Regions from separate parts of the Homo sapiens genome. Here region 2 is linked to region 1. The links come from fine-mapping of genetic effects on gene expression. A gene starts in region 1. The other region holds a variant in brackets. All regions are shown on one strand. Distances are from middle to middle.

What was found. PIP is the estimated chance that this variant, and not a neighbour inherited with it, causes the effect. A credible set is the group of variants that fine-mapping cannot tell apart.
Region 2: its variant is the best candidate, but not a certain one, in a credible set for the expression of CALHM6 in nasal epithelium (TOPMed, PIP 0.66).

Annotation. Positions count from the first base shown.
Region 1 is chr6:116,459,627-116,464,161 of GRCh38, forward strand. It overlaps CALHM6 (calcium homeostasis modulator family member 6), which reads left to right and starts at 1,749. Exons shown (of 3, transcript NM_001010919.3): 1 at 1,749-1,803; 2 at 2,246-2,828; 3 at 3,657-4,145. The coding sequence starts at 2,304. The coding sequence ends at 4,079. CALHM6-AS1 (CALHM6 antisense RNA 1) reads right to left here and starts at 4,078. Exons shown (of 2, transcript NR_174951.1): 1 at 3,993-4,078; 2 at 852-1,568. RefSeq lists enhancers at 2,155-2,264, 2,275-2,354 and a silencer at 2,735-2,814.
Region 2 is chr6:116,428,165-116,432,164 of GRCh38, forward strand. It overlaps DSE (dermatan sulfate epimerase), which reads left to right. Exons shown (of 6, transcript NM_013352.4): 4 at 2,790-3,029. Among named protein-coding and RNA genes, the nearest start is that of CALHM6, 31 kb to the right of the region's middle. The variant G/C (reference allele first, on the strand shown) is at 1,859.

The DNA.
Region 1 (4,535 bases):
TAACAGAAGCCAGGGAAGAGAAGGTGATGGACTTCATTAGAGTCTTAAAAAATGAAGGGAATGAAAACAGACCATAGGAATGAGGTGAAGGAGGAGATGGTGCTGATTAGATTGAGCCTCAGTGGATGATAAACTATTATAGCACAGTGGTAAAACCCTGGTATGGCTATCAGCAGGTAACCAGGAAAATGCCAGCCATCCCTCTTGGTTTGAGAGATGTGGGAGAATAAATTAATCTCACTCAAGAAGACAGAAGGATGCATTTTTATTAGGTTTCGGTTAGGGGAGATTTGGATAAAGCCATCTGCACAAAGGTTGTGGATATAGTGATGTTTCTGCATGATGGAATATGGGAAAGGGTGGACGAGAGAGGACACATCTTAGAGTATTATGGTAGAGGTGAAGAAGAGTCCAGCAGTAAGAGGAGAGTTACTCAAGGCACAGGGGAAGAAATTTATCTTGGGAGATGACAAATTACAAAGATAACAGTCAGAGCAGAAGTGATTCGCTTCAAACACGCAACTTTGCTGCAAGTTGACAGGAAGCCTAGCAGTATCTGGTCTAATCTCAGAGAAGAGGGCCCCAACTTTCCTGCATGACCATGAAGACCCTCATCTGGGGCTGGCCCCTAAACACATAGAAAAAAGATGTCTATTTACCACATCACTATGGAATGACAGCTTTTGGCACTACGCTAGGCACCCTGCTGGTGGTGTTGGAGAGGGAGTAGTTAAGAAGGCAAGTTGGACTAAGAAAAGAATAATACATTTCTTGTCCATTCTCTAAAAATTCACTTGGTTCCATGGGCTACCTATTCTTTCCAGATAAAATAAGGCAAGCCTGGTGGATGGGCACCAATAAGAACCATTTCATTGTGAACTGCCCACCCAAGCTCCATATCCAGATACTCTCCTTGTGGTGAAGCAGACAGCTAAGGTGTACACCAATTCTCTTAAGGTAGCAGAGTCATTGAGTCACTTAATACTATCCACTGAATTGATCCTCGTTTAAAATTCAAAATTCAGTATTCATCAAGATTCTTAGGTTATGTACAATGTAATTATTTGTTGTCTATTCCCCAAATTGCATTTTAAGGGGAAAACTCTCACACTGATCATTCATTTAACAGACATATCCTATATGTAAAGGCACTTTACATATGCTACTCAATCTACTCATGTCAGTAATCTTGAAAAGTGGGCACTATTATCCTTCTTTTACAAATAAGGATGCTGTGTCTCAGAGGGGCATACTTGTTAAACACACCACAGACAAGATGCACTTGACTTCAAAGCCCATGTTCTTTCAAGCACACCTCAGCTCAGTCTGGAGTCACACAGAGTAAGGCTCAATATCACAAAAGTGGTTACAGTGTTTGTGTCAGAACAACGCTGCTTGAGAAAACTGAAGGTGGAGGAAACAACATTAGATAGATGTAGCTGCAGTTTGAAATTTTGGGTTCAACTAGCATTCTTTGAATAATCATGTATCCCCTTCTGTGCAGATCAGCTTGGTGGTCAGAGTCAGAATTTTACTCTCCTCCAGGCATTGACAGTGTTATGACATATCTGAAAGAAAAGAACATTGTATTGACGAGTAAATCAATACAGTATATTTGGTCTAATGTCCTGAAGGAGATCAGGCAGAGGAGAGAAGAGTCAGTGTGAACTAGGCTGGTGGCTCTGTCCGGTAGGGAGATGGAAAGGGTGCCGCCCATCATAGAAGTACCAGAACTTGAGCTGGACTTTGCTGATTTAGCTTATGGAAGAGGAACCAGAAATTTGTCCTTGAATAATGTTTCCCGTAAGTAATCAGTTTTTTGATAATTATTTGGTTTTACTGTGATCTGGCTTAGTAACTAGGGTGGCTGCAATAGAGGAAAATCTGGTATTTCCCAGTTTTTCCAACTGGCGGCCGTGGGTCAAGAAGGTTAGTTTCCTGGTTCGTTGTCAGATTGGTGGTAATAAAGGAACAAGGTCAACCTTCTGTCAGAGTTCCTGAATTGGGGGAGGAAGATAACTGGTGCCTCTGCCTTTGGAATGGGGTGGGTGCCAGAGAAGTCAAGGTCCTGGGGGTGTTTGCTTGCCTGGTTCTGTTAACCAGAGGTGGTGTGGCTGAAATGAGAAAGTGAAACTTTAGGAAGGTCTGAGAAGCCCTCTTCCCTTTAAAAAAAAAAAAAAAAAGGCTGCTTCTCGCAGAGTGGAAAGCCCCGGTCCCCATCCCACCAAAACCATTTGACAAGCAGGACAACGAAGAGGCAGAAGGATCTGGGCCTGTGCGCGACGCCCCGGGGGACGAGGCTCATGGAGAAGTTTCGGGCGGTGCTGGACCTGCACGTCAAGCACCACAGCGCCTTGGGCTACGGCCTGGTGACCCTGCTGACGGCGGGCGGGGAGCGCATCTTCTCCGCCGTGGCATTCCAGTGCCCGTGCAGCGCCGCCTGGAACCTGCCCTACGGCCTGGTCTTCTTGCTGGTGCCGGCGCTCGCGCTCTTCCTCCTGGGCTACGTGCTGAGCGCACGCACGTGGCGCCTGCTCACCGGATGCTGCTCCAGCGCCCGCGCGAGTTGCGGATCGGCGCTGCGCGGCTCCCTGGTGTGCACGCAAATCAGCGCGGCCGCCGCGCTCGCGCCCCTCACCTGGGTGGCCGTGGCGCTGCTCGGGGGCGCCTTTTACGAGTGCGCGGCCACCGGGAGCGCGGCCTTCGCGCAGCGCCTGTGCCTCGGCCGCAACCGCAGCTGCGCCGCGGAGCTGCCGCTGGTGCCGTGCAACCAGGCCAAGGCGTCGGACGTGCAGGACCTCCTGAAGGATCTGAAGGCTCAGTCGCAGGTCTGCCGCTGGCGCTGGGGGCGTTTGGGAGGAGCCGAGAGGCCGAGCTTTCTCAGGGCCGCTGGGGTGAGGGAAAAATCGGTGACTTTTCTCCAGATATACAGTACCCTAAGAAAATCTAGAATGGCTCCTTGCATCTAATTTGCCGTCAAGAGAATATCTGAATAAAACGAATGAAAAGGAGAAAAACGCATTCCCGTAGTATCTGGCACTGTACATGAATCGTGGAAAGTGGGAGTGAGAGTGGGCACGCCTACTCAGTGCCAGATACTGCGCTAGGCCCTTGACCTCCTGCATTATTTTTACGTCTCACAACAGCTCTGTTGGGTGCAAAATTGCGGTTTTGCCATTACAAGTAATAGTTTCGTATCTCCCCTATATAGTGACTTCACTGAGTCTAAGTAAAGTTGTTTGCCCAGCCAATAGAAAGCAGAATTGTTAGAATTAAAGGGGTCTATAGAATAAAATGGGTTTGTCTGGCTCTAAAGCCACCACTGGACTTAGAAAGCTCAGAGGTTCTTTAAAATGAACACTTCTTTCCCAGGATTTGCAGAAATTCCACATTTTGAGTTCTAAGGGAATGGTATGGGCTCCTCCCTGGGCAGAATCATAGTGCATAACTTGGACTACAGTTGACTTTCCAAACGAGAAGTTGTACTGGGGGGCTAGGGAGGTTACTGCGACACCTTACTCTTAAGGAATTAAGACCTAAAACTGTTGCTTGTTCATCATCATAACTGGCGAGTAGTTGAAACTTTATCTGAGGATTTTTAAATTTCTTGTAAAAAACCAAGTAACTAAATTACTATTTTGTTGTGTTTTCTTAAGGTGTTGGGCTGGATCTTGATAGCAGTTGTTATCATCATTCTTCTGATTTTTACATCTGTCACCCGATGCCTATCTCCAGTTAGTTTTCTGCAGCTGAAATTCTGGAAAATCTATTTGGAACAGGAGCAGCAGATCCTTAAAAGTAAAGCCACAGAGCATGCAACTGAATTGGCAAAAGAGAATATTAAATGTTTCTTTGAGGGCTCGCATCCAAAAGAATATAACACTCCAAGCATGAAAGAGTGGCAGCAAATTTCATCACTGTATACTTTCAATCCGAAGGGCCAGTACTACAGCATGTTGCACAAATATGTCAACAGAAAAGAGAAGACTCACAGTATCAGGTCTACTGAAGGAGATACGGTGATTCCTGTTCTTGGCTTTGTAGATTCATCTGGTATAAACAGCACTCCTGAGTTATGACCTTTTGAATGAGTAGAAAAAAAAATTGTTTTGAATTATTGCTTTATTAAAAAATAAACATTGGTATTTTTTGAGTGCTTTTTTTCTTCCAAATTGTGGAATTTTATATCTGAAATTAAAATATAGAGCTTAACCTCTTTATAATATTATTTAAAACAAACAAAAAAAGAAAGTGATTCATCCAAAGTAAAAGCTAGAACTAAAAGAAGTCTTATATCCTTGTTCTAGAGTCCTTTTCAAATAAAAGACTTTTGGAGCAAAAACAGTGGCAGAACAATTGAACTTCAGACATTTCTGTTAGGTTATCTGATGTTAATTTCAAGTTCATTTTCTTGCCCACAACATCTTGTTAGGAACTTTAAAATTACGGCATTCTAGCTGGTTCTATAGCACAATTGATGGCACATTGGGCTTCTAGTCGAGCCTGCTGTGGTCATTCAAAAATTAGAGCATTTT
Region 2 (4,000 bases), 32 kb before region 1:
GGCAACAGAGTGAGACTCAGCCTTAAAGAAATAAATAAATAAAATAGAAAGGAAAAGAAAATTAAAACATCAAAATGCAAACAATGTGAGAATCCACTAACAAACCATTTATAAAGCCCCAGGCCTGTGAAAAGACACCATCATGAAATGGTGAAAGGATCCCTTAGGTGAGCCAAATTTCTGCTTCAGGTCTTAAATTTAAGCTACTATAGTTTTATTTCCTTAAATAAATTTTTATTTATTTAAGGGAAGGAGTAGAGTTTATTTCTTCAGTCTTTGTAAATAACATTATTCCAAATAATAAGCAGTGACCCAAAATACTGGTTTGGATTGAATCAAAATATGTCATTTTGCCCTGGCAGGAATTTTCCTATGCATTTATTTTCTGATTAAAGTTATGGTGGCCCTGGCAGACACTCTTCCAGAGCCCCCACATAAGTACACACATTTATGACAAGACTAGACAGAAGGAGGTAGAAATCAGTTGGAAAGAAGACAGGTGTGAAATGTTTAAATGATTACACCATAGTTACAGTAACCCCAGAGAGTGAAATAAAAGATACCATGAAAAGCGTTATGGTTAAATATAAAATGAGTATATTAACTTGGAATTCAAGAAAGCAGTGTTCTTTCAGTAATTTTCTTCATGTAACTTTGAAGATGGATAGGAGAACTTAAGGGGAAATTAAAAAACATTCCAGGCAAGGTATTCGGGTGGCAGAAAAAAAATACAGGGTATAGCTTCAATTAACAGTATCAGTACCTTGTATTCACAGAGAGTTGCAGTTTACAAAGTATTTTGGTAGACATTGCCTCATGTCTTCTGAAGAGGGTTGTTGTAAGGAACAAATAAGGAAATTTAGGTAATGTGGTATCCTGGGAACAGTGATCTGATTTTAGGCATCAGTCACATTGGTATCTGGTGGGAGATGGAAGACACACAGGAAAAGGATGAAGATAATTAGAATTTTAAACCAGAATGGTAGAGAATGGAAATTGAAAACTATCCAGAATATTGACATATCAGGTATGATGCTGGGTGGCAGAAGAGGCCAGGGTATGATGATCAGTCACCTCTGCATACCCAAGCCTGACAGCTGCATTGCCCCCATTAGTCAGGAGCCAAGTCTTAGCCTGGGACCTATATTTAGGCCCAGAGCTGGTTAGATCTGGGCCTCTGGAAGCCCCACACCTGCCACATAGTAGGCCATGGTAGCGTGGTCAACATGTTTGTGGAAGTAAAGCAATGTGGCTACACCCACACCAGGAGGCATTGGGCTTAATTTTATTCTCAAGGGTTGCGTGTTTTAAAGGAAAACCTTAAATCTAAAGACCTAGGTTGAGATTAAAGTTGTGTTCATTTTTAGTCATGTGCCAGAGGTCTTGAACAAGTCAGCGTTTCTGTTTTGGGGCAATGATACATAATTGGGTTGTTAAAAGGATTAACTAAGATTCTGTTCAGTGCTGTGTAAGTTATAAATGTTATAGAAATATGAGGAGTTGGCCGGGCGCGGTGGCTCACGCTTGTAATCCCAGCACTTTGGGAGGCCGAGGCGGGCGGATCACGAGGTCAGGAGATCGAGACCATCCTGGCTAACACGGTGAAACCCCGTCTCTACTAAAAATACAAAAAAAAAATTAGCCGGGCGTGATGGCGGGCGCCTGCAGTCCCAGCTACTCGGGAGGCTGAGGCAGGAGAATGGCGTGAACCCGGGAGGCGGAGCTTGCAGTGAGCCGAGATTGCGCCACTGCACTCCCGTCTGGGCCACAGAGCGAGACTCCGTCTCAAAAAAAAAAAAAAAAAAAGAAATATGAGGAGTTGTTATTGTCAACTAAGTGCAACAGTTCTAGAAAGCTA[G/C]CATTTCTGAGTTAAAAGGTTTTATAACTTGTTATAGACTTAATTTTCAGTGGGGAGATTAAAATGTGACAGATGGAAGAATTGCTTGGACAAAATCATGTAGCTCATTTTTTGGCAGATTCAGGATTCCTAGTTGATTTTTCATTATTAGTTTGCCTTTCCAGTGGTTTCTCAGCCCCACTGTGCTGCCTTTTCAGATCCTGTGGAAAAGCACATAAAGGATAAGAGGTTACCTTCTAATGACAATACAAATTGAAGACTGTCCGTTTAGCGTTTATAATATGTGCAGCCTATTACAAATTCTATAAAATAATGATGCAAGTTTCACAAAGAGATAAACTTTTAAAAATATTTTCAAGTATTATATTTTTAGGAACACTGAATAAAAATCTTAATATACAAATCCTCTCTTGCCAACATAAAGTTATATGCATTTGTGATCTTACATGTGATACAGTTTATTAAAGACTGGAAAGTGACTGATACTCATTTAAGGGTTTCTCTTCATTTATAGAGTCAATAACTTTTTTTTTTTTTGAGACGGAGTCTCGCTTTGTCGCCCTGGCTGGAGTGCAGTGGCGCGATCTCCGCTCACTGCAAGCTCCACCTCCCGGGTTCACACCATTCTCCTTCCTCAGCCCCCCAAGTAGCTGGGACTACAGGCATCTGCCACCACACCCGGCTAATTTTTTGTAATTTTAGTGGAGACAGTGTTTCACCATATTAGCCAGGAAGAACTTCCTAACTTACATCATGGACTGTCACAACCTGGATTACAAGATGTTATTTATACACTGACAAGTTGGAGTTTTACAAAACGCGATTTGTAATATAAACTAGTTAGATAACTCAGAGGGTTTTATTGGCCATATTTTTGTTTATGCTTTGTCACAGGCTTTAGTCATTGCTTCCATGTGTTTTCATCCTTCAGGATATCTTCAAGAAGCCTACTTATGGACCAAACAAGTTCTGACCATCATGGAGAAATCTCTGGTCTTGCTCAGGGAGGTGACGGATGGCTCCCTCTATGAAGGAGTTGCGTATGGCAGCTACACCACTAGATCACTCTTCCAATACATGTTTCTCGTCCAGAGGCACTTCAACATCAACCACTTTGGCCATCCGTGGCTTAAACAACACTTTGCATTTATGTATAGAACCATCCTGCCAGGTATAGTGAGGAGTCAGAAGTGTGAAAACATTAAACTATTGTAATTTTTTCTGATTATGAAAATGAGCTAGACTAGGCAGAGAAATTAGGTCCTTAGAGTTTGTCATATTGAAATTAAATAGATTTTTTTAATCAAAGAAAAATTGAATTCAAGAGTTGCATATAGCCAGAACATTTTGGAGGCTAATGTGAGTATTTATGATTTAGGTATTATAAAGTTTGGAGGGTTATGGATTAAATACAATTTCTAGGCCCCTCAATACTTTTTTTTTATATATCCAAACTTGAGTAATATACGAACTCATCTTCATCATTGCAAGCAAAATATAAACATTTGTGATTACCTGTCAGTTTTCCTTTATATGTGATCCCTGATCAATCCTATTTTAATTTTTGGTTTTCAGTTTTTTCTTTCAAACTATACAGACATGATTCAAAATGAAAGATTACACCTACACATTTAAGTTGGAGCTTTAGTATTGTAATATTTTATTGAAGTAAATAGTATAGAAAAGTAAACAAAAAAAGTGCTGTAAAACTTGTAATTTCTTTATTGCTGTGTCATTTAGCCTTCTAAGAGAACTAGCTCTAAAAAAAATATATACATGATTTAATAATGTATTCATTTCCAGAGAACTTTGTAACCTTTTTTTATTTCTAAAACAGGACTAAGATGTTAGAACAAGTTATAAAGGAAAATTTTATCAGGATAGATTCCCCCCCTTCCCCAAGGAAATGCAATTTTTAGATGGTGATTCTAGACCTACAACAAATAATATAGTATTTAAATCTTTTGGCTCTGGTAGTATACATACAGATTAATAGAATCTCCATTATTGGACTAATTCAAAAATATTGCAGAGCATAAGAACCATTTTAAGATTTAGTTTAGACTTACATTCAAAAAAATACTGCTTTGTTGCTTTTTCTTAGACATGCAGGAGAGGCCTGTTTTGCAATTCATCCTAGTA